Regions from separate parts of the Homo sapiens genome. Here all the other regions are reported to be linked to region 3. The links are microRNA targets in miRTarBase. Many come from high-throughput screens and were not tested one by one. Region 3 holds a microRNA gene; each other region holds the end of a gene's coding sequence.
The links. The annotated mature microRNA hsa-miR-1273h-5p reads CUGGGAGGUCAAGGCUGCAGU and lies in region 3 at 2,878-2,898, opposite strand. An mRNA with a match to its seed (bases 2 to 7 or 8) in the 3' UTR can be bound and repressed. Matches are read on the target gene's strand: a 7mer-m8 pairs with bases 2 to 8, a 7mer-A1 pairs with bases 2 to 7 and ends in A, and an 8mer does both.

Region 1: miRTarBase lists C6orf132 as a target of hsa-miR-1273h-5p. The part of its 3' UTR that is shown has no 7-base or 8-base seed match.
Region 2: miRTarBase lists MICOS10 as a target of hsa-miR-1273h-5p. Seed matches in the 3' UTR shown: 8mer at 3,076-3,083.
Region 4: miRTarBase lists SLC10A6 as a target of hsa-miR-1273h-5p. The part of its 3' UTR that is shown has no 7-base or 8-base seed match.

Annotation. Positions count from the first base shown.
Region 1 is chr6:42,096,759-42,105,148 of GRCh38, reverse strand. It overlaps C6orf132 (chromosome 6 open reading frame 132), which reads left to right. Exons shown (of 5, transcript NM_001164446.3): 4 at 1-686; 5 at 1,271-4,030. The coding sequence ends at 1,388. Among named protein-coding and RNA genes, the nearest start is that of C6orf132, 42 kb to the left of the region's middle. RefSeq lists silencers at 326-475, 496-595, 756-805, 4,713-4,934.
Region 2 is chr1:19,625,254-19,632,253 of GRCh38, forward strand. MICOS10 (mitochondrial contact site and cristae organizing system subunit 10) reads left to right here. Exons shown (of 4, transcript NM_001032363.4): 4 at 1,134-4,567. The coding sequence ends at 1,148. The region is part of intron 1 of MICOS10-NBL1 (MICOS10-NBL1 readthrough); the gene reads left to right. Among named protein-coding and RNA genes, the nearest start is that of NBL1, 16 kb to the right of the region's middle. RefSeq lists a silencer at 3,608-3,808.
Region 3 is chr16:24,197,656-24,206,045 of GRCh38, reverse strand. It overlaps MIR1273H (microRNA 1273h), which reads right to left and starts at 2,930; the gene lies at 2,815-2,930. The region is part of intron 16 of PRKCB (protein kinase C beta); the gene reads right to left.
Region 4 is chr4:86,816,383-86,824,772 of GRCh38, forward strand. It overlaps SLC10A6 (solute carrier family 10 member 6), which reads right to left. Exons shown (of 6, transcript NM_197965.3): 6 at 7,086-7,520. The coding sequence ends at 7,306. Among named protein-coding and RNA genes, the nearest start is that of SLC10A6, 29 kb to the right of the region's middle.

The DNA of each region.
Region 1 (8,390 bases), not on the chromosome of region 3:
AGAGACGCAGAGGGCACAGAGCTGAGCCGCAGGCACAACTGGACAAAGCCAGAGCCCCAGGCCCCTGTGGCCTGGGAAAGAGTAGCTCCCTCCAACCTCCCCCAGGGCCACCCGCTGCCCAAGTCCTTCTCCTCCCCACCTTCTCCTTCGAACAAGAGGGAGGAGGAGGAGGAGGAGTTCAACTTCGAGGTCATCCCACCGCCGCCAGAGTTCAGCAATGACCCTGAGCCCCCGGCCCCGGCCCTCCAGTATCTGGGCCGCCAGAGCTCCCCTCCCCGGAACAACTACTCAGACTTGAGGCAGCTCCCGAACGCTGGCCCCGGGGCGCCCCCGGCTCTCGGCTTCTCGCGCTTTCCCGCGGGCGCGCGCTACGCCGGGGCTGGGGGCCTGGAGCGCTTCTCGGGAGGGGGCCGCTCGCTCATAAAGAAGCGCCTGTACGTCGGGGAGCCGCACCGAGGCCCAGGGCTACCCCACGGTGGCACCGGCCGCAGCCTGAGCTCTCCCAACTGCTTCGGGCCGCAGCCCGGAGGCCCCGAGATGCGGCGCGTGAACTCGGCGGGTCGCGCGCCCCCCGGAGGCCTGCACGCGCCGAGGCTGTCCCTGGAGGGCGCCGCCCGGGGCGCCGCGGAGGCCAAGCACAAAGCGCCCGGCAGCGCCGACTACGGCTTCGCCCCAGCTGCCGGCAGGTGAGCTGCGGGCCCGGCTGGTGCGGGAAGCCAGGAGGGGTGGAAAGCCAGGCGAGGGCCAAGGAGTCCCGGCCATCCGTCAAGAGAAAACATTTGGTTTTCTCCCTTCGGCCTTGCAGGTAGAACGCGGGAGGGAGGCCCACTTACCGGGAGAGGGCGCTGTTGGCGCCTTCCTGACCTCCCTCCTGACCTCCCTTCTCTTTCCCCACCAGCTCCTCTCGTCTGTCTCTCTCCTGCCCGCTAGATCCCAGAGGTCAGGCTAAGTGTGGGGCGGGGAGAGATCTGAGTGGCCCTTGGGTGGAGGGATTTCCCAACACAGAGTTGGATCCCGACACAGGCCAGGAGTGAAAGAGTTCTGAGTGAAAGGCTGTTAGGCATGTTCTCCGGCCAGCAGGGCCCAGACCAGAATGGGAGCCCTGTTTGTGATGTCTGCGGTCCCTCCCTGGGGTCGATAAGCCCAGGGCTTGTCGGGGCAAATACAGAAGTATGAGCAGCATCTTTTCCTCTCGGTCCCTCGGGGAGATGAGAGACGTGTTGGCTAACCAGCTGCAGATATTCACCTCACATCTCTTGCTCTCCCCCAGGTCTCCCTACACCACCACCCGCTATGGAAGCCCCATCAACACGTTCACCGTGAGGCCTGGGACCCGCCATCCCATCTCCTATGTCTGCTCAGGGGCCCATCGGAAAGCCACCTCCTGAGCCAGGGGTTCTCTTAGCTCTACTCCAACAAACTGTGTCTTTAAGGATCTGGGCACTTGTTTCTTGTGGGGGGTGGGAGGTACACAGCAGGTGTTGGGCGACCTGACTCAGACACAGAGGAGTCTTTGATCCCCAAAGACCAACGATGAGAAGCAGTGGCCCAGGAAGACCGAGAGTGGGCTTCTGTTTCCCAAAGCGCTGGTGTGACTGTGGACTGTTTACACGTGGGGGGTGGGAGGGGAAGGAGGGTAGAGAGAAGGAACCATTAAGGACCTGGGCGCTGAGTTTCTGCTCTCTGGTACTATCTGCTTTAGCAAGAGTTATTTAAAACAGTTTTACAAGCACGGCCTACTGAGCAGGTTCTGAAAGCAAGGGGTGGGGCACTGACTGAACTGGAACCCATCGAGATAGCTGTGATTGCCTGTCAGGCCCTTGCAAAGGGCTGAGGCCCAGCTCTGTCTGGTGGGTGTGCAGGGCACCGAAGGGAGATCTTTAGCCTCCATCACCTGCCATCCCAAGCAAGAGTGGACACCTGGGGTTCCTAGCCGCATTGAGGTGGGACCAGGAATGTGTATGTATAACATGTGGAGAAGGACCATGTGTGGGGTGGGGAGTGAAGCTCCCACATGTGGAATGGAAGCCCTTTGCATTGGCCAAGGGCAGAGGTGGGAGATTGATGGTTCATTTTTCCTTGGCCCTAGCCCTTAGCTACAGGGAGGCCTAGAGAGAGGACACTTGGCAAGTTTAGGATGGGAAACAAGGTTAAGCCTGGCTTTGCTATTCAGACCTGTGCAGCCCTGATTTTGGGGACTGGGCCCAAGGAGCCATGAGTCTTAGGCTTGACACTAGGGGCCTTACATGGCCAGGTCTCATATGGGATTTGGAGAAGGCATTTTTCCTAACACTGATACTACAAGTCACCAATACTCTTGATGCCTTAAGATGCTAGAAAGCCTTGGAGAGTGGAGGCAGCAGAGATGGGAATGGAGGTCTGAAGAAGCTTGCTGCTGTTGGGGAATGTGTTTGGGAAAGTCAAGAGTGGTAGGATTGGTTGGCTGGGCGCGGTGGCTCACACCTGTAATCCCAGCACTTTGGGAGGCCGAGGCCGGTGGATCACTTGAGGTCAGAAGTTCGAGACCAGCCTGCCCAAATGGTGAAACCCCATCTCTACTAAAAATACGGAAAAAAAAAAAAAAAGAGTGCTAGGATTGGGCCAGTTAAGAGCAGGGGAGACCTGGCTGGGCATGGTGGCTCACACCTGTAATTCTAGCACTTTGGGAGGCTGAGGCGGGTGGATCATGAGGTCAAGAGATTAAGACCATCCTGGCCTACATGGCGAAACCCTGTCTCTACTAAAAATAAAAAAATGACCTGGGCATGGTGGTGGGCGCCTGTAGTCCCAGCTACTCGGGGCGCTGAGGCAGGAGAATCGCTCGAACCCAGGAGGTGGAGGTTGCAGTGAGCCGAGATTGCACAATTGCACTCCAGCCTGGCGACAGAGCGAGACTCGTCTCAAAAAAAAAAAAAAAAAAAAAAAAAGGAGCAGGGGAGACCTATCAGTAGGGTGACCACGTGTCCTTTGCCTGGGCAGTCCAGGTTTATGCTTGTTTTCCAGTGAATTAGACCCCCTTCCACTTTTCAAAAAAGTCCTGGTTTAGATGCTGTGATCACCAAACATATCAGGAAACAATATTCCTTGGTCTTGCTTCCCTATCTTCAGGTACTGGTGGGCCAAATTCCTGGGACCAGGTCAAGGTGGGCTGCCTCAGTAAGAAGGAAGGACTGGAGAGTGCCCATTTCAGAGGAGCAGGCTGGTGGGGGCCAGCCAGAAAGTAGTTCCCTTTGGGGGGAAGATGTTGGACCTTTATTATTTGTGGTAACCAGCCGAGGCTGGTTGTCAGGACAGCAGGTGAGCCACTTTAGGGAAGAAAGTGCAGGGGTGGGTGGATGCCCAGATTACCAAGGCCAGCCACCCTGATGGGGTAGGGTCTGGTTATCTGTGTTCAAGAAGCAAATCCCACCCCAGCCCCAGCACTAGCTCTCTATGTATGTATTTTCCCTGTACAATGTTTTATAAAAGAGATCATTAATTTATCTGCTATGTTAAGGCTCGAGGGGTGGGGCGTAGACTCTCAGCTGTATATTGCTCTGGGGTGGGCAGGGAAGGCTGAGTCTCACTTGACTTGGAAGATAAACAGGCCAGTTTGGACTGGCCTCCAGCTCCGTGGCTGTGTTTGTCTAACAAGGATTTGGGTAACTACTGGATACAAGCCACTGTGCTTAGTATGGATAGACTGCCATCAGCTCACCCACATGACTCCTGTTCATGGCAAGCTAATAGTCTGTCTGGTGGAAGAGGATTGAAAAAGCACACAAAAACATCATAAATTACAAGGAGTAGTAAGAAGGAAAAAACAGGGAACGTGAGAGAATAACTAGCGAGTGGGGAGAGGAGTGGATTTACTTTAACAGGGTAGTCAGGGAAGGCCTCTTGTGGTGGTGACATACTGATTTAGGCAAAGCGTCCAGCACGTGCCTAGCGCTTAGTAGTTGCTCAGCAAATGGCATCTTTGGGTGATGAATACCTCACATTTGTATATGGCCTGTCACAGTTTTCCATAAAGCTTTTTTTTTTAAGGCCATCTTGACGTCATACTTTTAGAATATTTTATTTTATTATTATTATTATTTTAGACGGAACCTTGCTCTTTCACCAGGCTGGAGTGGAGTGGCATGATCTTGGCTCACTGCAACCTCTGCCTCCCAGGTTCAAGCGATTCCCTGCCTCAGCCTCCTGAGTAGCTGGGACTACAGGCATGCGCCACCACACCCAGCTAATTTTTGTATTTTTTAGTAGCGATGGGGTTTTACTGTGTTGCCCAGGCTGTTCTTGAACTCCTGACCTCATGATCCACCCACTTCGGCCTCCCAAAGTGCTGGGTGGGCGTGAGCCACCGCACCCGGCCCCCAATTTTTTTTTTCCAAAAAAGTAACCAGAAAAGTCATCTCAAGACAGTGTTAGAGAAAGCGTTGTGTTTCCTCCTCTGAGTCTTTTGTGGGGGCTTTATGGGAAAGGGAGGATGACTCACTTACTCTGAAATCTGGGCTTCCAGGAAGGGCCTCTCCCATCCTTGGAGCCTCCTCATTCTCCTGTCTCTCACTGTCCCCCCACCTCTACCATGATGTCCTCATTCTGGAAACCCCGAGCAGGGATAGTGGCTTGGGCCCTTCGTCTGGCTTTTCTCCCCACACTTGCTCCCTTCTAACATTTTCTCCCTCATCTGACATGGAAGGGGCAATGGTTAACCCAGGAGGGAGGGCAGAGAACAAGGGCCCCACATCCTGGCTCTGCCTCTGACAAGCTGTGTGACCTTGGGTATCAGCTGACTCATCGGAGAAGTGAGGAGGACGGACTTGGGCCGTGTCTGGATATTAAACTTTGTTGGGTCCCTGACCTCTTTGAGAAACTGATGCATGCTTCTCAAGAGGCCGCAAGTGCATTTTACACACTATTTCAGGCACCCCACAGATCCCCCAGATTCAGGCTCCACAGGCTTCATGTTGAAAACTCCTTAAGTGACAGTGGTCAAGGTACCCACCAACACTTATTTAACCTTGACAGTTTGCAAAGTTCCTTCTCTCTCTCGTTTACCTGTGACAGTCCTCTAAAATGTGCCAGCCGTGTAATACTCCTAATTGCATTTTGTTGTTGAGGAAATGAAGGCCCCGGGAAGAGACGTGAGTTGCTCAGAATGGCCCCTCTGACTGGAAACCCTGTTCTTTCTGCGTGAATCATCACAGCTGCCTCCCTTATAGCTGTAACCACTCTCCCCACCCACTTATCCTCTCCCGGTTGTACTCCCCAAACTTTACCTCTATTAGAGTGGTGGAGAAGAGGCTGAGTAGGCTAAAGCTACCCTGGTGCCAAAAAAGGTTAATGGGCATGGGCGGGGCAGATGTTCCTGGATCAGATTAGCCACACCTTGGTTTCTGAAGCCGTTTCACTGTTCCCTGGGCCAGAACTCCACCCCACCTCTCTTGTGAAGCCCAGCCTGGCCGAAAGCAACAGCTAGGACAGGTCCCGGGAAAAGCTGAGCTGGAAGCCTGGGGCCTGGCGCCAGCAATATATAAAGGGGCCTGTCGTGAAAAAGGTCAAGCTCAGCTTTTGTCACGGCCAGGCTTGTTCAAGGAGAGAGGCTTCCCCTCACTCCCGGTGAGCCCTTCTGTGCAAAGCTGTAGGACAGAGGTGACTCCGGAACCTGGAGGGGTGAGGCAGAGGCCACCTCGCTGCTGAGCTGTCAGGCAGGCCTGCCCCCACCTGCCTACCCAGGCAGACTGTGGCCACTTCCCTTTCAGCAGCTCAAAGGCCATGCTCATGCCCCATCATCAGTCAGCTGTATGGGAAGGGTGGACACTGGCACCCATCAGAGAGCCTGGGCCCCCTCCCTCCGAAGCCCCAGGGATGGCCAGAGTCTGAGCCCTGCTGTTGGGGCCTCTGGGATGCTTTTTGCCAGCAATGTGAGAAAAGGTGCTCTTCTGGGAGAGAGGAAGAGACCCAGGCAATTTATTATGAATGCTCCCCGTTGTATGGATAATCCTGTGCTCCTCTGCCCAATTCCCGCACCTCTGGAAACTTCATTCACATTTGGCACAGATGAGCCACTCCTCCCTCCTTCCCCTTGAGAATCGTTCTCTGAGCCTGTGCAGAACAAGGTGCTCCGATCCTCTATCTTGCACACTGGCTCCTTTCCTCCCCCCAACTGTCTCCCTGTCCACCCTGTCGTCGGCTCTCCAGTCCTCCTTCTGTAGTTTCTTCCTCAGAAGACAGTGTCGCCCCTCATGCTCACCTGTACCAGGGGTCCATATTTCTAACTTTGGAAGTGCCTCCTGGACATGTCCATGTGGTTGCCTGGCCATCCACTCAAATCCAGCCTCTCCAAAAGGAATGATTCTCCCCTACTTCCTTCTCACACAATTGTGTGGCCAGAGTAGCCGGACCAATGGCTCCAAACTACCCCCAAATACTCATCCCCGCCTCACTGCTTGGGCCCCCTTGGCTTCCCCTAGGCCAGCTCACACTCAAGGTCCAGCTTGGATCGGAGCTCCTACAGGAAGCCTTCCCCAGCCCTGCTCTGCTCGGAGACCTCTTCCTCCTCCATACCTACCTCTCCCACTTCTGTGGCAGGCTCTTCTTTATCCTCAGGCTTCAGCTCAGACATCCCTCACCTGCTAGGCCACAGCAGCTCCTGCAAAGCTTCCCACGGTCCCTGCTGCTCTCCCTCCCCGCACCTAGTGTTACTTGGTCTACATCTCTCTCCCAGCAACTTGTAAGCTCCACAACGTAAGGACGCCTCACTCATCACAGTATCCCCAGCATCTGGTGCTGCTCCTGGCACCAGCAGGTGCTCACTATATTGAGTTTATTGATGAATACAAGTTAGTACTTAATCAAATATCATCAAGCACTGTGTAAGTTCCTTGGCTGGGCGCGGTGGCTGACACCTGTAATCCCAGCACTTTGGGAAGGTCGAGAGGGATGGATCACGAGGTCAGGAGTTCAAGACCAGCCTGACCAACATGGTGAAACCCTGTCTCTACTAAAAATACAAAAAAATTAGCCAGGCGTGGTGGTACACGCCTGTAATCCCAGCTACTCAGGAGGCTGAGGCAGGAGAATTGCTTGAATCTGGGAGGTGGAAGTTGCAGTGTGGAACTTAATCTAATGCTGAGGTTATCAGGCTGAGGGAAGGTTTAGTTTTAGGGATGAGTCTCTAAGGTCTCATCATAAAGGTGTCCAGATGCCTTGGAGTGGCTCCTGCCTGGTGGGCTGAGATACTGCATCCTCTAAGTAGAGACATGAGCTAGGATGTTATGGCACCAGGTGAGGGAGTCCTGGTCCTCAAAGGATCTCAGGCAGCCCTCTACACCCCACCAGTGAGCCAGCCACAGGGGCGGCCAGCTCCAACAATCCAAGTGACTTGCACTCTGTTGCTTTTTCCCTTTTGAGCTCCTTTGGTCTTCAGCAAACTTACTTGGTGCCACAGCCTATCTCAGCTGTGGACCAAGGGTAAAGTTTCCATTACATGTGGGCGGGAGAATTGAGAAGGAAAGCACCTCTGGGGGCCAGGGTGGCAGAAGCCAGCCAGGTCCGACCTGTTCACCAGCCCTCCCCACCTGCAGAGCCCACCTTCAAGAGGAAAGCCTTACAGTTCTAGGTTTGGTTTTTATTAAGGAGTGAGCTCCCTGCACAAGGTTTTGAGGGCCTAGCAGGGGTCTAAGCACAGAGTGGGGACCCAGTAGACTTGCTGTTTTGAATCTCTTCCATCTCAGCATAGGATCATTAGCCCTAATGCTACTCTCAGAAGTGGGACACTGGCTTCTCATTTTCTTTTCTTTCTTTCTTTCTTTTTTTTTTTTTTCCTGAGGCAGGGTCTTGCTCTGTCGCCCAGGCTGGAGTGCAATAGTGCCATCATAGGTCACAGCCTCCAGAGCTCAAGTGATCCACCTCAGCCTTCCTGGTAGCTGGGACTACAGGCATTCACCACCAGGCCTGGCTAATTTTTTTTTTTTTTTTGAGATGGAGTCTTGCCTTGTCGCCCAGGCTGGAGTGCAGTGGTGTGAGATCGGCTCACTGCAACCTCCACCCCCCATGTTCAAGCAATTCTCTGCCTCAGCCTCCTGAGTAGCTAGGATTACAGGCGCCCGCCACCACACCTGGCTAATTTTTGTATTTTTAGTAGAAACAGGATTTCACCATCTTGGCCAGGCTGGTCTTGAACTCCTGACCTTGTGATCCACCCGCCTCGGCCTCCCAAAGTGCTGGGATTACAGGCGTGAGCCACCGTGCTCTTCCTAATTTTTGTCTTTATTTTTTGTAGAGACACGGTCTCGTTAGGTTGCCCAGGCTGGTCTTGAACTCTTGGGCTCAAGCAATCCTTCTGCCTCAGCCTCCCAAAGTGCTGGGATTACGGGCAAGAGCCACCGCACTTATACTCCCTTCTC
Region 2 (7,000 bases), not on the chromosome of region 3:
TTGTTCCACTGTAACAACAAGTAGAGTGGAAAATGTGGTACAAATGCATGTCCTAATTCTAGTCAGGAGCTGTGGCCACAAGGGCCACCAAATCCAAAGTAGCAGTATCCTGCCACGGCCCTGCACCTGCCATTTTAGAACCTGCTGAAACCGTCAGCTGCCTGCAGCCAGCCCATGTCTGCTGGAGAGATGGGAGTAGGGGAGCCATCTCTGCACCAAAGCAAGAGTGAGGTCATCACAGGGACCATGCAAGAAGAGGCGCAGCTGTGTGGCACTGAAGCCGGCAGCCGGCCTTTTCCACCACTCCCTGGCTCCTCGCTTTCCTGGCATCAGAGCTGATTGTGGGGAGAACCGAAAGGAGCAGACAGAGAAGCTTCAGGTCTTTTGCTTAAAACATTTCCATTGTTCCAAACTGAGTTGTCAGGGATAATGGCTCAGGGGTGATTATATGCATATTATGTATTTAATGGCTGGGAGTTCCTGTGGAAAATATTGTTCCATTTTTTACATTTGTGTGTCCTGCTCCAAAATGGCCTTGTAACTTTATCTGGACTTGAGTCTGTGCCTCGATGTTGTCATCCTCCATTCCCTGAAAAATGGAGCAAAATCCCAACCTGGGCTTATTCAGTGTAGTCCTATTGTAATAACTGCCTCCTGAGTGCCCAATCTGCCCCCAGGACCATCCTGGGTGCTTTATCTTTAATAATCTTTCCCTCTAGACCTGCCAGTTGATTTGTGAGAGATGTTACTATCCTCATTCAGCTGATGAGAAAGCAGACTCTTACCGGGGTTGAGAAACTTGGCAAGGCCATGTAGTTCGTAGGCTGATGAGAACCATGCTCTCCCCACTCCCCTGGGACGCCTTCGACAGGTTTTAGGAATTGTTATCCAGGTCATGATGGTTTGGCCCTGTTCCACTCGTTTCCCACTCTTCTCCCTGGAAGATTGGGGCTGGATGGCACTCTTAGGAACCTAGGTAGGGTGTACATAGTCCTGTTGTGAGACAGTTTTAACGTAAACAGTGTGATAAGGTTTTGGCTTCTGGCCCTTTGGGTCTGACCTGATACAGCAATTAGAGAGGGTTGTCAGAATGCCGTCTGCACAGTTTTAAGCTGAATGTCCTTGCTTTACAGGAGCAGGAGCAGTGACTTCACCTGAGAACATCCCAGCGGGAGGACAAGAGAAATCATGTTTATTCCTCAGGAATACTGAAGTGCCCTGGAGTAAGCTGCCATTCTTCTGTAACAATGTTATCAGTAATGCTTTAAACTCCAGCACCTGGTTATGCATTTGAAACCAAGTCTGTTTCTTGTTTTGTATTTTCTCTCTGGAAGTTGTAAGGAGGTGGTCTTAAATAAATTAAACAAAAAGAGGAAGTCCATTGCATGGCCTTTGTTTCTTCACCTTTGGTCTCTGAGCATGAGGAGGACTGTGTGTGAACTGCCAGCAGCTGTAGCCACCTGCTCACAGCCTCTCTGAGAACCCCCTGAAACCAGTTGTTGGGTATCCTTCCCATTTGCCCCCTCAGGCGTAGTTTTCAGAACTGCTTCCACCTCGTAATCAGAAGTTGAAGATTGCTGCTGCGTGGCCTGATGGAGATGACTGATGTCTTAAGGCGCCTTTCCTTCTGTGGCACCTCTTCGTGTGTTCTCACCTGGGGACCTGGCAGGGCACATCTCCGCTGTGCCTACTGCAAGGCGGTCCCACTGCTGCTGTATTAGCAGGGGAAGAATCCTGGCTGTGTGGATGGCCCACTCCATTGAAGTCAAGTCCTGCAGCTTCATAGAGCTTGAGACAGTCCAAGCTTCAGCTCTGGAGGGCGGAGGAAAGCTCATGGCATACCCACCTGGCCGGAGGAGCCCGATTGGGGTTAATTTTATCTTCACGTAGCAGCTGAAGTTTGAGGACAAAAGGGCCACTTCTGATGCCCCTCTGAGTTTGTTCCTGTGGTTTCACTTGAACCAGGGATGCTAGATGCAAAAGTCATATTTTAGCAATTTCTTCAGACGATATACAGAACCCCAGCGCTCAGCCGTTCTTATTTCTTTTTCCTTATCGTAGAATTAAGATAGGGAGAGCCCGATCCCACTTGCCCCTGTATCCTGTAAATGTTGATTTATCATCTACTGTAAGCGAGGCACTGTTGTAAGCAGCAGAGATAAATGGATAAATAGACACAGGCTTCTGCCTTCAAGGAGCTTAGAGTCTGATGGAAAGACAGACGTGCAAACACAACTCTGAAAGAAGTGTTTTAATGGAGAAGAGAGGTGTAGGCAAAGTACACTGAGAACAAAGGAGAAGGAGCAACTATGTCTCCCTAGGATGGCCCCACAGGCGACGGAATGCCTGCGCTGGGACCCGAAGTTGACTGGGAATCCCAGACAGAAGGAGGGTAGCCTCTGTGTTTGCTCAGGATCATGTAATGCATATTATAGCTGGGAAATCGCAAGTAGTTCAGCATAGCCAGGGTGTGTAGGGGCAGGGGAAAGGCATGGAGGGGGAGGCTGGGCAATAGGGTACAACTCATGTCTGACTCCAGTTCTGGAACATTGATTAGACCTTAGTTCTTGCAAGTGCTATAGTGAGTACATTCAGGGTAGCAAATACCCTCCCTCAGCCTCCCCACTCCCTTTTCCAGAAAGGTCTGCTAGGCTCTGCCCTGCAAACTGTCCAGGCTCCTCTGCCCTCTGGGCTTGTTTTCCTCTTTATTGCTACTTGGCTGTTTTTCACTTGGTCCTCTTCATTCTATGATTAAGGCAACCCATATAATTGAAAGAAAAATAATGTGCAGCCTGTTTCATCCCTTCCACTTGTTTTCTTACTATTTATTTATTTATTTCTGAGATGGAATTTTGCTCTTGTTGCCCAGGCTGGAGTGCAATGGTGGCGATCTCGGCCTGCTGCAACCTCCGCTTCCTGGGTTCAAGCGCTTCTCCTGCCTCAGCCTCCCGAGTAGCTGGGATTACAGGCATGCGCCATCACACCTGGCTAATTTTGTATTTTTAGTAGAGACGGTGTTTCTCCTTGGTCATGCTGGTCTCCAACTCCCGACCTCAGGTGATCCTCCCGCCTCGGCCTCCCAAAGTGCTGGGATTACAGGCGTGAGCCACCGCACCCAGCCTCCTATTTGCTTTAAAAGTAATTTCCTGGCCGGATGCGGTGGCTCACACCTGTAATCCCAGCACTTTGGGAGGCCAAGGCAGGTGGATCATGAGGTCAAGAGATCAAGACCATCCTGGCCAACATTGTAAAACCCTGTCTCTACTAAAAATATAAAAATCAGCTGGGCATGGTGGCGCACACCTGTAGTCCCAGCTACTCAGGAGGTTGAGGCAGGAGAATCATTTGAACCCGGGAGGCAGAGGTTGCGGTGAGCTGAGATCGCGCCACTGCACTCCAGCCCGGCGACAGAGCGAGAATCTGTCTCAAAAAAAAAAAAAAAAAAAAAGCATTTTCCTTCCCCAATTTTTCTGTCATTTTCCCATCCTCATTCAGGCAGAGAGAAGAATAACATGCCCCCTTCCAAAAAAGACAAAACACAAGGTAGCCACAAATTCCCTAGACACATTAGAAAAATAGGGAGTGGAGAGGGGCATTGGAATGAAAGTTCTCTATCTCATTAGCTGTTAGGCTTTAGGCATTTATTTGGATGGATCCCTTTGGCACCTTGGAAGCACCACTGAAGTGCTCTGAGAAAGGGGTCAGCTGTCTGAGGGAATAGTTCTGGATAGAGGCCACAGGAAGCACTGGCCAGTTGCTTTAGTTCTAGATAGCTTTGTATTCCCGCCTTGTTGCCCTTAGCGGAGGCTGGCCCAAAGCACACTTGATCTTGTCCCCACTCCCTGCCCCCATCTCAGATCAACCTTCAGAAAGTCCCGGCTTGTTGGCAAAGGCACACATTCTGTGTTACTCTTAAGTTTCATTAGAAATTCAAGTCCTCTGGGGCCCTGTTCCCTTGTGGGCTTGTGCAACTGACTTTGTTTCTTGTCTGCCTTTCTGGAACCAAATCCAAGGAAATTCATGGGTTTGGGGAGACAGCGATGGGAACCCAGCAGGGCACAGGATGCTAGGATAAAGCTGTGGCGCCCCAAAAGTGGCCTGCTCTGCCAACATACATAAATACATACAGTCTGAGCTTGACACTGTATAATTTGGCCCAGAACAATATGTATTTTGAGCTCATTTAGGTGAATGACTTTGGCATTCCATGTACCCACTAGGGGAAGCTTTATCAGGCTGCATTTGCCTTATGCAGAAGTATGCCTTTGTTCTGAGAAATGGCCTCAGAACACACTGTTGAGCTGTCTCCTTTAGTGAGTGTCATCCTCTCATCCATTTCAAAAGATTGCAGATGCCGTCTTGAAGTCCTGCTTGTAAGAAATGCAGGGGTTGGGAATGGAGGAGATGACGATGTAGTTTTGCTTTTAGTTTTCCCAAACCTGTTTACATTTTTTAAAAATGTAACCAACCCATAATTGCATTTTACTTGTCGTGGTTCGATCTGATTGTATTGTCGAAGGACTATTTTTGAACCTGTCCAAATAAACTCTGCAAAGTATTTCCACAAGGATGTGACTCCATGGCGCTTGGACAGCCTTTATCCTGAATGGTACTGAGACACAAATGTTTTCCTGTTGCGTGCTTTCTAATTACCTAAATGCAAACGGGGTGGAAGGGAGAAAGTGGAAATTCTAAGTACCAAAAGGAATGTTAAATTTAGAATAATAAGCTCATCTGGAAGCTATCACCACTTTTTTCTTAAAGTGCGCTGCAAGCATCGCTTCCCCTTGGACACCAAATCATGGTATTGGGGTAAAGACAGACTTGGGCAGGAGCAGGGGAGAAGCCCCATGTCTAATGAGCGGCCTCTGTGTGGATCAAGAGTGACAACTGTTCTGCTGTCAAGTGCCCTGACAAAGAAGAACCAAGGGAGAGGCAGGGCTGTAAATGATTTGGAGTCAGGGGACTGGATCTAAGTTCCCACTCTACCACTTATTTGCCAGGTGACCACGGGGAGTTGCCTTAACCTAAGGGGTTGTTGCAGGCTGGGCACAGTGGATCACACCTGTAACCCCAGCACTTTGGGAGGCTGAGGCAGGTGGATTGCTTGAGCCCAGGAGTTCCAGACCAGCCTGGGCAACATAGCAGGACCCCATCTCTACAAAAAACACAAAAATTAGCCAGGGATGGTGGCATGCACCTGTTGTCCCAGCTACTTGGGAGGCTGAGGAGGGAAGATCACTTGAGCTCAGGAGGTTGAGGCTGCAGTGAGCCATGATCATGACACTACACTTCAGCCTGGGTGACAGAGTGAGACCCTGTCTTAAAAAAAATTAAAAACCACACACACACACACACACACACACACACACACACTTATTTACGGAGCACATGGTCTTTGAGCTAGGCTAGGAGGGGAGAAGGGGAAAAGACACTGAAGAAAGAGAACTCTAGGAGCTTCCGCCCAGGTAGGAACATAGAACTATTACTGGGCATTTGCATTCAGGATAATTGGCTTCAATTGTTTGACCCTCACTTAAGGAGTTCAGAGCCAGAAAGTGGAGGTGGAGGAAGATGTCAAGAATTCTTGAAGGAGGAGTGGGCAGGTGATGAATCTTTACGGGGAAGAAACTGGGGCTAGAAAAAAAGAGCTCATTATCAACTGTCAATCAAGTCATCTTTATTCCCGGTCCATCCAGTTTGAGCTAGGCAGAACATATATCACGAGGCTTACTTTTTACAAGCTTATGATAAAAGTACTATTATCCTCATTTTATGGATGAAGAAACAGTTTTTGGAAGGGCAAATTAACTTGCCCAAGGACAAGTAGGTGAAAACAATGCAGGTGGAATCTGAACCTGATTCCGGAGGCCAGACTCTTACCTACTTTCTATGCTGGTCGAAAGCTGTTTAAAGTGGGGAGGGTCATTTCAAAGGAAAGCAGTTTGATCCAGTTTAAACCTGATTTGAGATACTTAAACTAGTTGAAATGGATCAGAGCCAGTTTCACTGAGTTTAAATTAGTAAGAATAAGTTGATCCAATTTGAAGTCAGCTGTATTTGTTTAAAAAAGTAATTCCTATGTCTATTTTCTATTAATCAGAAACATAATTATCAATCAGAGCTTTGGGTCAGCGTTGCTGATAAGTTTGGCTAAGTCCTTGCAAATGTAATAAAGCATCATGACATTTTATTGCAGTAGGCATCTTAAAATCTATACACTTTTCAATTAGATAATTAGATTTCTTTTTCTTTTTGTCTTTTTTTTTTTTTTTTGAGACAGGGTCTTACTCTGTTGCCCATGTTAGAGTGCAGTGGTGTACAATTTTGGCTCACTGCAGCCTTGATATCCAGGACTCAGGTGTTTCTCCCACCTCAGCCTCCTGAGTAGCTGGGACTACAGCTGCATGCCACCATGCCTGGCTAATTTTTGTATTTTTTGTAGAGATGGGGTTTCACTATGTTGCCCAGGCTGGTCTTGAACTCCTGGGCTCAAGCAATCCACCTGCCTCAGCCTCCCAAAGTGCTGGGATTACAGGCATGAACAACTGCATCTGGTCCTAAATTTATTATTTCTTATTATGTGGCATAATAATTTCTTATTACGTGGAACTTTCCCTTCTCCCTCATTTATTTAGTCATTTATCTATATCAGTATGGACTCATGGATTCTCATTTTATTCAACTGATTACAATCCATTATTATTAATATTTAACTCAAATTGTCTAGATTTGTCCAGTAGGGTCTCTTTCAAATGGTATCTGTATCCCTTTGACATATCCATTCCATTCTTTGAACACGAGCTATTGCAGACTCTTCTTGTATTTGCCCCACCCAGCCCTGGAATCAGCAATTTCTCCAAGGAGCCCTGGTTCCATTGAGTGGGGAGTGGTAGTTAGAAACCAAGCTCTCTAGGTGTGCTTGCTGCTGTTGGTGTGCCATTGCTTAGACACACCAAAAGCTTTGTCCACCTCTTAGCCAACATACTAGAAAATACGT
Region 3 (8,390 bases):
TTGTTTTGCTCTTGCTTTTCTTAATTTTCATTAAAAAATAACATCCAGTGTTTTGATTTCCTCCAGATCTCAGTTTAAATGGCACCCTGTCAGAGAAGCTGTTCCAGACCACCTTCAAATAAAGAGGATTCTCATTCTTCCCTCCTGTTATTCTCTGTCAAGATATCCTGTTCATTTCTTTAACAGAAATAAAATCTGGTATATCTCAGTCTATAATTATTAATACATGTTCATTCTCTGTTGATTGTCTATGTTCTCATCTAGACTGTAAGCCACATGAGAGCAAAATCACATCTGTTTTATTCACCACTGCGTTTCTAGAACCCAGGGATGAAAAAAAATCAAATGGACAAATAATAGTGTATGTTAAGCACTAACTATGAGCCAGATACTGTGTTAAGTGTTTTGCAAGCTTTACCTCCTTTAATCCCCCCAAAAGCTCTATGAAGTCCTTGCTGTGCAATGAGAAAATGGGTTTAGTTTAAGTATCTGACCACGATTTGATCCTAGATTTGACAAGAGATCCAGACTCTTCTATCAGTCTCCTACATTTATCGCAGAAACAAACAAGCTATTAAAAAGCACCAAGATGCCAGGCATGGTGGTGCCATGCCTATAATACCAGCACTTTGGGAGGCCCAGGTGGAAGGATCACTTGAGATCAGGAGTTTGAGACCAGCCTGGGCAACATAGAGAGAACCTGTCTCTACAAAGAATTTTTTAAAAATTGGCCAGGCATGGTGGTGCATGCCTGTGGTCCCAGCTGTTCAAGAGGCTGAGGCACGGGGAATCCCTTGAGCCCAGGAACTGGAGGCTGCAGTGAGCTATGACTGTTCCACTTCACTTCAGCCTGGGTAACAGAGTAAGACCCTGTCTCTAAAAAAAAAAAAAAAAAAAAAAGGAATTATAATAATAATTTTTTTTTTGAGATGAAGTCTCACTTTGTCGCCCAGGCTGGTGTGCAGTGGCACGATCTCGGCTCACTGCAACCTCCACCTCCCGGGTTCAAGCGATTCTCCTGCCTCAGCCTCCCAAGTAGCTGGGACTACAGGCACCCATCACCATGCCCAGCTAATTTTTGTATTTTTAGTAGAGACGGGGTTTCACTATGTTGGCTAGGCTGGTCTCGAACTCCTGACCTCGTGATCTGCACGCCTTGGCCTCCCAAAGTGCTAGGATTACAGGCATGAGCCTCTGTGCCTGGCCATAAAAAATTTTAAAACACACAAAAGAATCCTTCTTAATCCCGCCACCCCAAATCTCTGTATTATGTTAACATCTTGGTTTGTATCCTAGATGGCTGGATGAATAGATGAATGGATGTTTTTTAGTTTTTAGACAAAGGTGGAATCATGACTCTGTTCTTTTGCTTGCTTTTTAAAAGAAACTAGATGAAATACACTCTAAACATCTTCCCATGTCAACAGAATATCATTTTTTTTCTTATCTATTCTTCACCATTCATCCTAAACCCACATTGTTGGCTTCAAGTAAACTCACCCTCAAATAGTAATTATCCCTTCTATTTGCCTATCTTTTTATAGCTTTGATTCCCACAAGGCTGTGAGATAGGCAGGAAAAGGATTATCTCTACTTAACAGATAATTTTAAGAGTTAACAGTTTGTTCAGGGTCATATAGGGTCAAGTAGGAGAGCCAAGATCCAGAGCCCATCTGTTCAATTCCAAAGCCCATGGGCTTTCCATTACATCCCATTGCCTCATACTATGTATCTGATTGTGTGGCACGGACTTAAAAGTTAAGCTAACCTGGGTACCAATCCTGGCTCCAACAATTCCCAGCTATACAACCTTCAAGCAAGTTAGCTAAGTCCCCTAAGCTCAAGTTTCTTGTAGGGTGTGGCGAGAATGACTTGATAAAATTCACATCAAATACTTAACATGGTAGCTGGTGGTTACTGCTGAGGGCTGACTGACCCATTCATGTCCAGTGAGTAAGTCTGACAGGGCTGTGCTCTGGCTTGAAAGAGGTCCTGTACGCTCTGCCAAACCCTAAATTCCTACCCATATTCCCATCCCAATTACAAGCAGAATGAGGACCTGCCAGTGCTACTTTAGACATAGAACAGAAACCTTCCCACTTAGCCTGGTGCATCACGGCAGGAAGCTACAAGACAAAGCCAGGCCCTGGGGCTCCCAGTTAGAGGAAGTGAGAAAAAGACGTGTACCCTGGGAAGAAAAAGGGATGCATTTCCGTTCCCATCCAAGCCTCACTTCCTTAGAAAGACATTTCAGGTAGATTAACACACCATCTCTGTGCTGTTTTCCATATGCCATTTGGGGGGGCATTTTGTGGTTATTTTTAAGAGACTGCACTTGTAACAAAACAAAAAGTAAGCTTTCTGTTTTCCTTTCTGGGTCATGAGCTGGTCTCAACCCTCCAAATTCAACTGTCACTGGAAGTCTTTGTGGAGTTGGAATTTCTATTGGGAGTGGCTGTGAAGGTAGGAAGAACATCAGCAAATGTGGTGATATGGTTTGAATGTGTTCTCCCAAAGTTCTTGTGCTGGACACTTAATCCCCAATGCAACAGTGTTGAGAGGTGGGAACTTTTGGAGGTGACTGGATTGATGTTATTATTGTGGGAGTGAATTTATTTAAAAAGTAAGTTACCCTCCCTCATGTGTTCTCTTGCCATGTGATGCCTTCTATCAGGTTACTATGCAGCAAGAAGGTCCTCCCCAGATACAGCCCCTGATCTTGTACTTCCCACCCTCCAGAACCATGAGCCAAATAAATTTCTTTTCATTGTAAGTTATCCACTTTTTTTTTTTTGAGACAGGGTCTCACTCTGTCACTCGAGCAGGAGGATTGCTTAAGCCTGGGAGGTCGAGTCTGCAGCAAGCTGTGACCACGACACTGCAGCCTTGACCTCCCAGGCTCAAGCAATCCTGCCTTAGTCACCCAAGTAGCTGGGACTACAGGCATGTGCCACCCCACCTGGTTGATTTTTGTAATTTTTGTGTGTGTAAAGACAGATTTTGCCATGTTCCCCAAGCTGGTCTCAAACTCCTGGGCTCAAGCTCAAGTGATCTGCCCATGTTAACCTCCCAAAGTGCTGGAATTACAGGCATGAGCCACTGCACCAGGCCCCAGTTTCAGGTATTCTTATAGCAGCACAAAACAGACTAAGACAGACACACAATGTCATAAAAATGAAGGAGAAGAGGGGCTTAAAAAGAAAGAAGGCACTCTGAACTTTTCCTACAGATAAACTCACTTATATAGGAAACTAGGAAGTTATTCAAAGGGTGATGTAGAGTTAGATAAGCAGATAAGAAACAATCTCCAAGACAGAGGGGAATAATGCAAGATACAGAAATTGTACACAGCATGCTAACATCCTTGTGTGTGATGTAGACTATTTCTGGGCCTGAACACATCTTCTCTAGAAGGTCACACAAGAACCTGGTTGCAATGGGTGTCTCTGGGAAGGAGAACCAGGAAGCCTAGCTAGGAGCCATGGGTGAGGGGAATCTTAATTTCACTTTGTAGCTTCTGATGCTGCTTGAATATTTTATTTTTTCACATTTTTTTAAAGGAGAAAGGATTAGAGCACCTAATAATATGGTGAGGTCAAGAAAGATGAGACAAGCTTATGAGAAGAGGCAGTTTTCAGGTCATTGATGACTCAATGAGAAAAATATCAATAGGATGGCGGGAGCAGAAGCCAGATTGCACCAAACTGAGGAAACAATAAATTGTCATCAAGTGGAAATAGCAGGAACTGGCAACTCTTTCAAAAGTGTGTTTGTATGCAAAGTAAGGTAGGGTAGTAATCATAGCAGTAGTAAGAGTAGTAGTAAGGAGGATTCCCAGGTTTGAGGTAGGGGATTTTTAACATGAAAAAGACATAGCAGGTTTATGCACAAAGGAGAAGGCCAGGATAGAGTCAGAAAGGACAGCTGCTGTTTTTGCCCAGCCAGCAGGCATTGTCTTTTCTTCTAGTGACAGTGGCTTTATTTTTCTTTTTTTCTTTTTTTTTTTTTTTGAGACGGAGTCTCGCTCTTTTGCCCAGGCTGGACTGCAGTGGCGCTATCTCAGCTCACTGCAAGCTCCGCCTCCTGGGTTCACGCCATTCTCCTGCCTCAGCCTCCCGAGTAGCTGGGACTACAGGTGCCCGCCACCGCGCCCAGCTAATTTTTTGTATTTTTTAGTGGAGATGGGGTTTCACCGTGTTAGCCAAGATGGTCTCGATCTCCTGACCTCATGATCCACCCGCCTCAGCCTCCCAAAGTGCTGGGATTATAGGCGTGAGCCACCACACCCGGCCATGACAGTGGCTTTTTTTTCTTAAAGGAGATATTCCTTCTCTTCTTTCAAAATGTCTGATTTAGATAGGACATTCCTTCTCTTTTTTCAAAATGTCTGGATTAGATCCAGCTCTCTGGCTAAGAGGGGCTGGTGACCCAGGCCCGGTCAATCAGCACATTCCATCCCCCTGGTGCAGTGAGCAATTCCCTTAGAGATGGGCATATGACCCAATAATCTTCCAAAAAGATTGAGTCCTAGGCTGCTGGGATTTTATAAAAAGGAAGCCCTTTTCTTTGGTAGAAGTTGCAGAGATAATGGGACATAAATTGGGAGTTGCTATGTGCCCAAGAAAGCCTTCTGAGAATGAAGAATGAAGTCAACACAGTGGGGAAAGTAATCCTAAGGGATATAGATAAATGTTTCCCTGCTGGCATTGTTTGGGACCAGATGTAGATGATCCATCTACATCTGAATACTAACTATCATTATTTTTTGCTTAAAAGTCAGTTTAAATCAGATTCCTATTTGAAACCATAGGAGTTTTGTTGATACAGAGAGAAGCTGTAGACAGACTAAACAGGGGAGATAAGCATGAAGGATCAAGAGGCTGGAGTCCAGAGCAGGAGTGAGGGTAAGTCTCACATGAGTTGGGGGAGGGAAAACATATTTGCTAAGACAGAGATGGAAGCTGGGCAAGGAGGTCAAGATGACTATGGAGGTGCCGGTAGGTGGTAAGAAGCTGACGGCTACCAACCAGTGGCACCCATGGGCCTCAATCTTCCTCACGATTTAGGGCAGGGATCCCCAATCCCTGGGCCATGGACCAGTATCAAAATAACAATAATAATAATAAATAATAATATAATAGTACATGACTCAAAGTCATGTATCTGGTAGGTTCTATGGTTGACTTGCCCCGCCAAAGTTCATGTGTTAGAAACTGAATCTCCAATGCAACAGTGTTGAGAGGTGGCACCTCATGAGAACTTAACAACATTATCTTGGTAGTGGGATCCTAATAAAAGGGATGAGTTTGGCTCCGTATCTTTCCCCTGCATGTGCACACACATGTATGCATATGCATATATATGCACACACATGCACGCATACTCTCTCTTGCCCTTCACCTTCTGCCATGGGATGACACAGCAAGAAGTCTCTCACCAGATGCAAGCCCCTCACCCTTGGACTTCCCAGCCTCCAGAACTGTAAGAAATAAATTTCTTTTCTTTATAAATTATCTAGTCTGTGGTATTCAGTCATAGCAACACAACATGGACTAAGACAGAAACTGATTTAGGAACTTCACCTGGCTCAGGAACCTGACAATTCCAACCATCTAAAGGGAGCCTGGTTTGATCTGAAGTTTAAATGGGTTCTCCATGGGTGTGTAGATAGGTGGAGAGAGATAAACAGACTCCAAGCTGTGTGTCCTAAATGGCTCTTGGCTATTTGTTTGTCAGTATATAAATGTAGGTTGATATTTTTATTAAGATCTCTGCAAACTCCACACAGTGGATACCCCAAAAGAACAACCAGAAATGAGCAGGGAAACCTCTACTCCTTAATGAGCCTGTCTCGGCTGCCTCATTTCAATGCTGCCATGCCCTTCTTTCAGAGGTTAGTCAATGCATGCCGTCTTTGTCAGCCTCAAAATCAAAGCCCTAAGGAACAAATAAGATTTGCATCTTTTAAAATCCTGACAACGAATTATAAAAGCTGTGAAGATGCTACTTATTTGTTGCAATATTTTAAAATAAATTTAAATCATTTGAATTGTAAGAATACTCAGTCTTTTTCTATTATGTAACAGACACCATTCGATGGTGTTATCATGACTCTCCTGGTAGCACAATCACAAACCTTACCAGGGGCTCCAAGTGCTTCTAATAATCTTTACAAGGGTCTTGTGCAGTGTACAGTCCAGGGATCAAGTCCTGGCTCCTCTGCTTTCTAGTTGCTGGACCTTGGGCAAATGCCTTAACTTTTCCAAGCTCTAGTTCCTCATCTATACTGTGGTGATAACCCTACCTTACAGGGTTGAGAGAATTAAATGAGGCAATTCATGGAAGGCAGTTAAAACAGTGCCTGATGCAGACAAAAATGCAATATATTTTCTAATATATTTGAACAGTAAAGGTTTTATGAGAATTATTTTAAATCACAATTTTCAAAAATGAATTGTTCTCTTGAGTATTTGATACTTTGGGGGAGTTAGGTTCTGTGCTTAAATAAATCACATTGAGTAAGTGTTAGATCCTTTTCTTAAGGCTTGAATTTGGAGTTTTAACAGCAAACATACAAAGGTTACACTTTCTGGATTCAATTCAGAAATGTCAGCACATCAAACACACACATTCAGACACACACACACAGAGGCACTTACTCATACAGTGTAAAGGGCAATTGGGTTTGGAAGAGAATGTCACATGAACAGATTCGCAGCTCATTAAAGCAGTACTTGAAGCTTTTGACCTCAGCTACATAAACAATGTTTTCAGATGATAAAATTGCTGAGAAACCAAGTCCTGTGAGTATGATTTAGTTTCTGAAGCAGTTCAGCATTTAGACTCTCAGAGGATACGGGCAATGGGATGTGATCAGATAGCCCAAGTAGTATTTTGGAAATGATACTAACAGAGCATAGGACAAGGACCTTTGCAAGCTATAAAAGCTTGCCAGGTTTTCAGCCTTTCCTACTGTCCAGATGCCTCAAAATTATGGGGCTTTAAGTAAAGTGCAGATAAGAATCGGTAACAAGAGCAGAAATGATTGGAATCAGTCTGTCATACAAGTGGGTTTGGAGTTAGTGAGGCCTGACACAGGCTAGAATGGAAGGAAGGAGGGAATGAGCATTGTAGTGATGTCTAGACAGGACTGGATGGTTGCTCCAATGTCAGGAGTGGAGGAAAGGGGATCTTAACGTCTGCTTCTCATCAGGTTGTACTCCTCAAGCCCTGCCCAGAGAGCATTGACGATCAGATGCATCATATTTTAGAACACTTGACAATCTGGTTGACCATATTTTAGAACAATTGATGATCTGATTGATAATATTTTAAAAGAATACTAGAGCCATGTTTACTACTGGGCAGATCATTGTACACACACTTTAGCGCTTAAGACTCCACAGGTGCCAGGCACAGTGGCTCACGCCTGTAACCCCCAGCACTTTCAGAGGCAGAGGTGGGAGGATCACTTGAGGCCAGGATTTTGACACCAGCCTGGGCAATTAATTAAAAACAATGAAAAAACAAATAAATAAAAAGCAGAAAAGACTCCAAGGACTCTAATGAAGCCTACTTAGCTTTCTCTTCCTCTTCACCTCACTGCTTCTATGCTGCTACCTGGGTTGTCTTCTGAGGCGGCTGAATCCTTGTACCCTGGGCTCATCCCCCTACCCAGTTTTCACAGTAAGCCCTTCATTAGGTGTTATGGACACTATGGGAGCCTTTCAGAGGAAGAGTGACAGGACTTCATTAAGCCAATTCGTGACAATACATGAATGCCACCAAACTCTCCATTAGGCATTTCAATGTGAACATATTACCTAGCATATCTTGTCCTGTGACATTATAGCTCCATGTACTACCACTTCTGCAATAAAATATGCTCATCCATGCCAAAGGCTCAATGCACCTTTTGCTACAAGTCAGCAAAATTCTGAGCTGGATCACCCAGACACAAAGCAACTCCCTGGGTACAGCCCTCAGCCACTGCACCCTCCGATATCACTACATTCTTTGCAACAGGATGGACAGGAGGAAGTCCAACCAAGAGCACAACCATGTCCTCCTGCTCTATGCCCTGCAAGCCAGCGCTCTGTATCACAGAAGCTTTCCTGACCATCTATTTCATTCATTCATCCTATTGCTACTGGGACCAAACTCTTGGCTACCATGTTTTATACTTGAGGAGCAATCATGTGGGCAGTCTGCAGGGACTCATGTTCATCAGCGCCTTCATGTCTCCATGAGACAATGACTGAGTGCCTACAAGATGCCAGGAACTGGGGAGGACCTGAGGATGCCAACTTGGGGGTTCTCAAACAGCCCCAACCTGCCCAAGCTCCTATCACCTTTTGCCTGGATTATGGCAAGAGTCTCAACCAGTCTCC
Region 4 (8,390 bases), not on the chromosome of region 3:
AAGCCCCAGCAGATAAGAGGCTTGGGTCCTACCTCAGAATTGGCTCTGAATATGGCAAGAGAAGCTTTACCATTCCCACTTCAATCAGAAGAGTATTATAGATTGGGTTGTAGCCGGAGATTTCATTTGAAAAAAAGGTTTCTATTGCTTTAAATGACATTTGGAAATCTCTTTTCTGAAAGAGTTGGAATCATGAGGCCTTGTTTTCCTGCACTGGCATGTGAAACTAGGCCAGCAGAGCGCTGGGGGCCAGTACAGCTGGAGGTGATTAGCTCGCATCTGAAGTCAACATAGATGGGAGAGGGTGGAGCTGGAGGTTGCTTTTTCTGGAACGAATGTCACTAGGAAATGGAATGGGGGGAAGAAAATGCAGATTTAGCTTTATGACCTATGAATGGAAACTTCATGATGGTAAATATGTTACTGCCCTCAGCTGGGATCTGGCTGCACCAGCATGGAATGGTATGAGCCACTTGCAAGGGCCAGTCTGGTTAGAAAGCAAGGTGAGGCCACGCAGCTGGGGTGGCACATGGAAACACTCATCTCAAATTAATGAATAAGTACAATTCAGCTCTTAACACAGCTTGTATTAGCTAAGTGCTAGAAAATATAAACTGAAGATATGGAATGGCTTAAACGTAATAGTTTATTTCTAGTTTATCTAACAGTTCTGGAAAAGTGAACAGCTTGGCAATCAGATCTACTTGGCTCAGTTTTTAGCCCGGGCTGATGAAAGTACTGTAATCAACACATAGCTTCCAAGGTTGAGAATCGCCTCCATTCCCCACGAAGGATTGCCTATGGAGAGGTTTTACGAGCCAGGCTTACATGCAAAACACATTGCTGTCACTCATTCCATCAGCAAGAACTGGCCAAATGATTGCCAGTGACAACTCTATGCTATAGAAGGGGAAGCACATATTGTAGTAGAATATATTTACAAAACTGAACTCGTTATTATTCTAAAAGATTGAGTATCTTAGTGTAGTCCTGAGCATTGCAGAATTAGAAACAATTTTATCCCAAAATCAAAACTTCAGTGCATGTCATTAGTAGAGATAATTCTGAATTATTATGGCAAACAGGAAATAAACAGCTGTTGAGAAAAGATTCTTTTACATCAGTGGTCCCAGATAGCCTGCCAGATTTTTTGGTTTAAAAAGGACTAGTTATCTATATGTAATGTGATAATCCAATAAATTTAAAAAACAGCTTAATACACCTATCTTCCAGATACAGACACCTTGATAATGATAGGCTTTCCATTTTACATAATTCAGAAATATTCATAATTCAGAAACATTGTAATGGTAGAGATAAATGTAATAAATTATAGGCTGACCTGCATAATATTTTAAAGCCAATCGAAACTTTACTGTATCAATTTGGGATTATATTTGACTGCAAGTAAGCAAAAGCAACCAAACAGGCCTACAAGTTGTAAATCAATAAGTATGTGAGACATGTCTCAATTTAGAAGTTTATTTTGCCAAGGTGAAGGACATGCCTGGAAGAAATGACATGGAATCACAGAAATAGTCTGTGGTCTGTGCCTTTCTCCAAAGATGAATTTGAGGGTTTCAATATTTAAAGGAGAAAAGTGAGCTGGAGGGGAAAGAAGAGGGGTATGGTCACATCACTGAACCCACATGTTGCAGGAGAAAAGGAGCAGATAGGGAAATAGTTATGTATTTATCTTGCACTCAGCACATAGATAAGGTGAACGTAGAGTAACTACCTGTGGAGATATTTAACCTTTTATCTGTAGCTATCTGCTTAGGAACAAAAGGAAATGCAGTTTCTTGCATGACTCAGCTTTCAGCTTCATTTTTTTCCTTTTGGCGGAGTGAATTGGGGTCCCAAGTTTTTATTTTCCTTTCACAAATTCTAGAGGGCTTAGAGTTTATTTTCTTTCCTTAAGAAACCAAGCTCAGAAGGCAGTTGCTCAGAAGTAGGCAGTTAATTCTATAGCTCAAGAATGTCAACAGCGCTATAAATATCCTTGGCCTTTCCTTGGCCTGGAAGTGGCTGCCACAGCTCCAGCTATTATATCCACATTCCAGAAAAGAAACAAGAATTGGCAAGGAAAATGGGTCAAACAGTACTAGGGCAAGAAAGCAAAATTTCCCAGAAGTCAAGGGCAGACTTTTCCTTCTGTCTTAGCAAAATCTGTCAGATGCCCATCTCTAGCTTCAAGAAAGTTATTTTTAGCTAGATGTGTTGCTGTCTAGCTATGAACAATATCTTGATTCTGTTCATAAGGACAAAGACAGCAATTGATACTGGGTCCCAGCAAGTAGTGTGTGCCTTTCCAATTCTGCCTCAGTTTCCACCATTCCGTATAAGGTAGCGAACACTATGCCAATTTTTCAAGATCTTCATACATATTTAGAAGATTCTGAATTTGTAACTATTGAGGAGATTCACTGATAGGAAGTATTTAAAAGTAGTCTTCAATTTTTACAGGTTTAGAGACATAGTTTTATTCACTCAACCAAACTATAACCATATTCCAAAGGTTGTGCTAAGCAAAACCTCAGGACACTGATAAACCATGTTGCTGATTTATTAGCTTACAAGGAAGCTATAGGTGGGTCTAACAGAATGAGGAAGGCTGGACATTCAGAAGGGGCTCCTCCTGCTGGGGAAAGTACATGTCAAGGCCAATGGGAAGGTTGCCTAGAGACCAACATGTCATTCATTAACTGGGTTAGGCTGAATGATCCTCGACGCAAAGGGTATTTCTGATTACACAAGAAAAAAGTAGGGGATGTAACAAGTATTGATCACTTATGGATTGGACCAGGTGTTTTCACCTTGCCTCGTTTTCAGGTTGTTCAGGATTGAATGTGTTATCAACCTTTTTTAGAGAGGAAACTAAACCCCAGAGGGATTGTCACTTGCCCAAAGTTGCCCAGATACCCAAGGTAAACGTTCAATTTCAGCTCTGACTGACTTCAACCAATAGCTGTGGAGGTCTCCTAGCTATTAAAGTAGAATGCAGGCTGGGCACGGTGGCTCACGCCTGTAACCCCAACAATTTGGGAGGCCCAGGCAGGCGGATCACCTGAGGTCGGGAGTTCGAGACCAGCCTGTCCAACATGGGTGAAACCCCATCTCTACTAAAAAAAAAAAAATACAAAAATTAGCCAGGTGTGGTAGCGGGTGCCTGTAATCCCAGCTACTCGGGAGGCTGACGCTGGAAAATCACTTGAACCTGGAAGGCGGAGGTTGCAGTGAGCTGAGATCACGCCATTGCACTCCAGCCTGGGCAACAAGAGCAAAACTCCAACTCAAAAAAAAAAAAAAAAGTGGAATGCAGGCAGCCCTGACACAGCCTGTGTTCTCTCCACTGCACTCTGCTGCCACGACCATCCAGCTGCCTCTTTCCTCTTAGACATGGACTCATTCTGCTTAACATGATTTCTCTGGCCCCACTTCTGAGTTTCATATAGGTCCCAGCTTTTATTAACTCATGATTCTTTACATCAATTAGAATGCAACTTACTCAAATCGGACTTTTTTCCAGTTATATTTTTTGTTCTAAAGATAACGTGGCCTTCTGAACATCTTCACTATTTCAAGTTCTTGTCAGTAACATGTTTACAAACCATCTATGGAGATGGCCATCTTCTGATGTGTTGTTTCTATCTTAAAGGATGGCCTTTGGTATCCCTCATCCTTTTGGTGTCCCTCATCCTTGGAACGTCCTAACTGTTGTAAATACTGACCATATTGTTAAGCTTTCAGAACAGCATTAAATTTTACCATTTTGTTTTAGGTGTCTATGTGGAGAAACAATTTAGAAATTCATTTTTTGTGGATTCTTTAAAACTCATGGAGCCCGGGTACGATGGCTCACGCCTGTAATCCCAGCACTTTGGGAGGCCAAGGCAGGCGGATCACTTGAGGTCAGGAGTTCAAGACCAGGCTGGCCAATATGGTGAAACCCTATGTCTACTAAAACTACAAAAATTAGCCAGGCGTGGTGGCACGTGACTGTAGTTCTAGCTACTGGGGAGGCTGAGGCAGGAGAAGAATTGCTTGAACCTGGGAGGTGGAGGTTGCGGTAAGCTGAGATCGCGCCACTGCACTCCAGCCTGGATGACAGAGCAAGACTTCATCTCAAAAAAAAAACAAAAAACAAACAAAAAAAAACCTCACGGTAATACTCATTTTAGAGCTGGAAATCTCTGTTACTTGCAACTCTCCTAACTGTGTTCATTGCAGTGATCTATTCCCCTACTAGACTATAAACTTTGTGAGGGCAGGAGCCATGTCCCATGTGCCTGAACATAGCACAGACTAGCTTCTCATTATGTAAACATTTATCATATGGATAAAGGGGACTCTCCGAATAGTAAACCAACAGTTGAGAATTAACAAGTCACAAATCTGCATAGTTCTTTTCCATATAAAAAGTGCCGTGGCTCTAAGACCTAATGGGGCTCCTTCTGTACTACCACAAAGGCTTTCTGAATTGGTGGAAAATACAATAATCATTGTCATTGCATTAACCCACAAGTTATTGGGAATACTTACAAAATAACATTATAAACATTAAATCTCAAAACACTTTCTCACACATTTCAAAACTTACAAATAAGAATAGACACAAAATGGAACCAGAGTCCCAACAAAAACACATTATATAGGAAGTTATGTGATAAGGGTAGCATTTCAAATCAGTAGATAAAAGAATAATGATTCAATATATGATGTTTGGATAATTAACTATAAAAAAATTAGATTATTATGCCATACAGGAAAAATTCAAAATGGAATAAGTATGTATGTATTTGCTCCATCACAGTATTAGAAAAACATATGGGAAAATATTTTTAATAATTTCTAGTAGAGGACAGATTTACCTACTGCCAGGCATCATGTATTGCATGGGAAGACAAGAAGTACACACAGCAGCTAGTAAATATGTTGTGTAAGCCCCCAGAAAGAACTCCCTGAAAAGGGGCCAAATACATTCTCAAAAAAAGATTCTATCACAATTCACAATCCACACAAATATATAAATATGCTAACATTTGGCAGAGATCAGAGCAAAAAAAAAACATTCTTAATAAGATTAATAAGCTGAATATATTAAAAAAATAAAACTCTGTATTGCAAAAGACATAGAGTAACAAAAGATAAACGAGTAGGTAAAATGTTGACAAAACATAGGACACATTGTCACTTATCATTATGGTTCAAAATCTATACATCAAAAAGGAAAAGATACAATAGAAAAGCAGGCAAAGGACATAAGTTGCCAAGTGATTGTGAAAAATGCTTTAGTTCATTCAGTTTTTAAATGAAATTTTGTTTTTTGTTTTTTGTTTTTTTTTGAGATGGAGTTTCGCTCTGTTGCCCAGGCTGGAGTGCAGTGGCATGATCTCGGCTCACTGCAACCTCCGCCTCCTGGGTTCACGCCATTCTCCTGCCTCAGCCTCCAGAGTAGCTGGGACTACAGGCGCCCGCCACCACACCAGGCTAATTTCTTGTATTTTTAGTAGAGACAGGATTTCACCGTGTTAGCCAGGATGGTCTCGATCTCCTGACCTCGTGATCCACCCGCCTCGGCCTCCCAAAGTGCTGGGATTACAGGCGTGAGCCACCGCGCCCAGCCTAAATGAAATTTTAAATGAGATGTTTTAACCAATCAAAATTGATCATTCATTTGACTGGTGAGACTGTGGGAAACCAGGCCCTCTCAGGCACTGCTGTACAACGTTGCCAGATAGCAATCTGTCATACATTTCGGTAAGCAATTGGCTTGGAAATTCAAGTCACAGGAAGTGAGCCTACAGAAATACTTGCACCTAAAGGCAAAAGTGTTTGTAACAGCACTGTAATACTGTTAAGCTGAAAGCTATCTAAGTGTCCATGAATAAGGAGTGGTTAAATAAATTACAGTCCTTCCACACAATAGAATACTTCCACATCACTACTATACTAAAGAATGAGGTAGGTCAACACAGACTGACACTCAAAGATGTTCCATAATGTGTCATCAAGTGACTTACAAAACAATATATGGAATGATCTCAAGGTTCTTAAAATGATACAGTTTACATACACAGCTTAGAAGGATACACATGGGTCTTTCTTTTTTTTTTTGAGTCAGAGTCTTACTCTGTCACCCAGGCTGGAGCGCAGTGGCGTGATCTCAGCTCACTGCAACCTCTGCCTCCTGGGTTCAAGTGATTCTTCTGCCACAGCCTCCCAAGTAGCTGGGATTACAGGTGCATGCCACCATGACTGGCTAATTTTTGTATTTTTAGTAGAGATGGGGTTTCACCATGTTGGCCAGACTGGTCTTGAACTCCTGACCTCAGGTGATCTGCCCACCTCAGCCTCCCAAAGTGCTGGGATTACAGGCATGAGCCACTGTGCCCAACCATGTGTCAATCTTTAGAAAGTGAAAATACAGGGCATTCCATTTTTAACCGTATGTGTGTTTTAAATTCTTTCCAAGCTTGTGTTACATCTATAATCAAAATGATTTTCAATTTCTTAAAAATAATAATCATTTGAGAAAACTGCCCCATTTATTATAAGAGCTATTTGTTCTCCTCTCAGTGCACCTGAGGACCTGCCCAGAGTCAAGAAGTCACATAGGTCTGCGTCACCCTGCAGTATGAGGTGACATCTCCTCTACTTAGAGTTCTAACTCTTGTTCAATTAAAATCCACAACGTGGCTGGGCGCAGTGGCTCATGCCTGTAATCCCAGCACTTTGGGAGGCTGAGGCGGGCAGATCACTTGAGACCAGGAGTTCGAAACCAGACTGGCCAACATGGTGAAACCCCATCTCTACTAAAATACAAAATATTAGCCAGGCATGGTGGCACACACCTGTGATCCCAGCTACTTGGGAGGCTGAGGCAAGGGAATCACTTGAACCCAGGAGGCGGAGGTTGTGGTGAGCCGAGATTGTGCCACTGCACTCCAGCCTGGGCAACAGAGCAAGACTCTGTCTCAAAAAAAAAAAATCCACAACATAAGGATAAGTTCCCCTAATGAAGGATTTTACCTACTGCCAGGTACTATTTGCTGCATGGGAAGACAAGAACATACAAGGCAGCTCATTGATACGTTATGTTAACCCCCAGAAGAAACTCCCTGAAATGGGAATCTCCAAAAGTGATCCCATCACAATTCACAATCCACATGAAAATATAAATATTCTAACATTGAACACTTAAATATTCACACTGGCCCTACCAACAAGATTCATGTGTCAGCTGCACACTGTCTTTACTGGCCACTGAAAAAGAAGGGGGCCAGTCCAGCCAGCTAGTCCCTGCTATTCACATGAAGTGATGTGGCCAACTGGCTCGAGAGCCCTGTGGCAATCCATTGGCCCTGGTGGCCCAGGAGTGATGGCACCTTCTTCATTCACCTCCAAGAAGGCATTGGTCTCTCTGGAAGAAGTCGATTTCCTCGTATGGCAGACTTCTGTGCAACCTGAGTTCTTTTTTCCATGTTTGTTCTTCAATCTCCTCTTGTACGTCTGATATGCTAGGTGTTAAAACATACAAGTATTAACAATCACTTTAACAAAGAGTCTAATTTGGTGACACTGTACACTTGTCAATCCTTCAGGTGTTTGTTTCAGTGGCATCATGTATGTATAAACACCCAGGGAAAAGAAGGGGGAAAGAGAGAAAGCTATAGAACAGAAGGATTCAGTGTATCAGAATGGCTCTTTTGTCTGGATGAACCATTTGTGATTGAGGCTCATTCATCAGGTTGCTGACAGCTTACACACTCATATATTCATTCATTCATTCATTCATTCATTCACTCATTCAGCTAGTCAGCTGGCAAATACTGCGAGTGCTTACTAGAAGTAGGACACTCTCCTGGGTTCTGGGCTAGAGCTGGGAATGAGCCAGAAATGATGCTTGCTTCAGTCTCTCCATGAGAAGGAAAGAAAACTTGGGTCTGAGACCAAGAGTTTGACTCTAATAGGATTTATCTTATCTGTTGGGGAAATTAAGCCCCAGGTATTCCTGATATTGTTATATTGATTGTTATATCTGTAATCAGTATATAATAATAACAATCAGCAATCAGTATATAATCAGTTCTATCAGTAATCATTGAGTCTTACTCAGACCCAATTCCCTAACAGCAGCAAAAATTTACCATGGCCCAAGATTAAAATATATATGTGTATGTGAACATATATATTTTTTTTTTTCTTTTTCGACTTTTAGATCCATGTGCATGTTTGTTTCCTGGGTATATTGTGTGATGCTGAAGTTTGGGAAACAAATGATCTTATCACGCAGGTAGTGAGCACAGTACCCAACAGTTTGTTTTTCAACCTTCGCCCCCTCCCTCCCTCTTCTAGTAGTCCCCAGTTTCTATTATTGCCATCTTTAT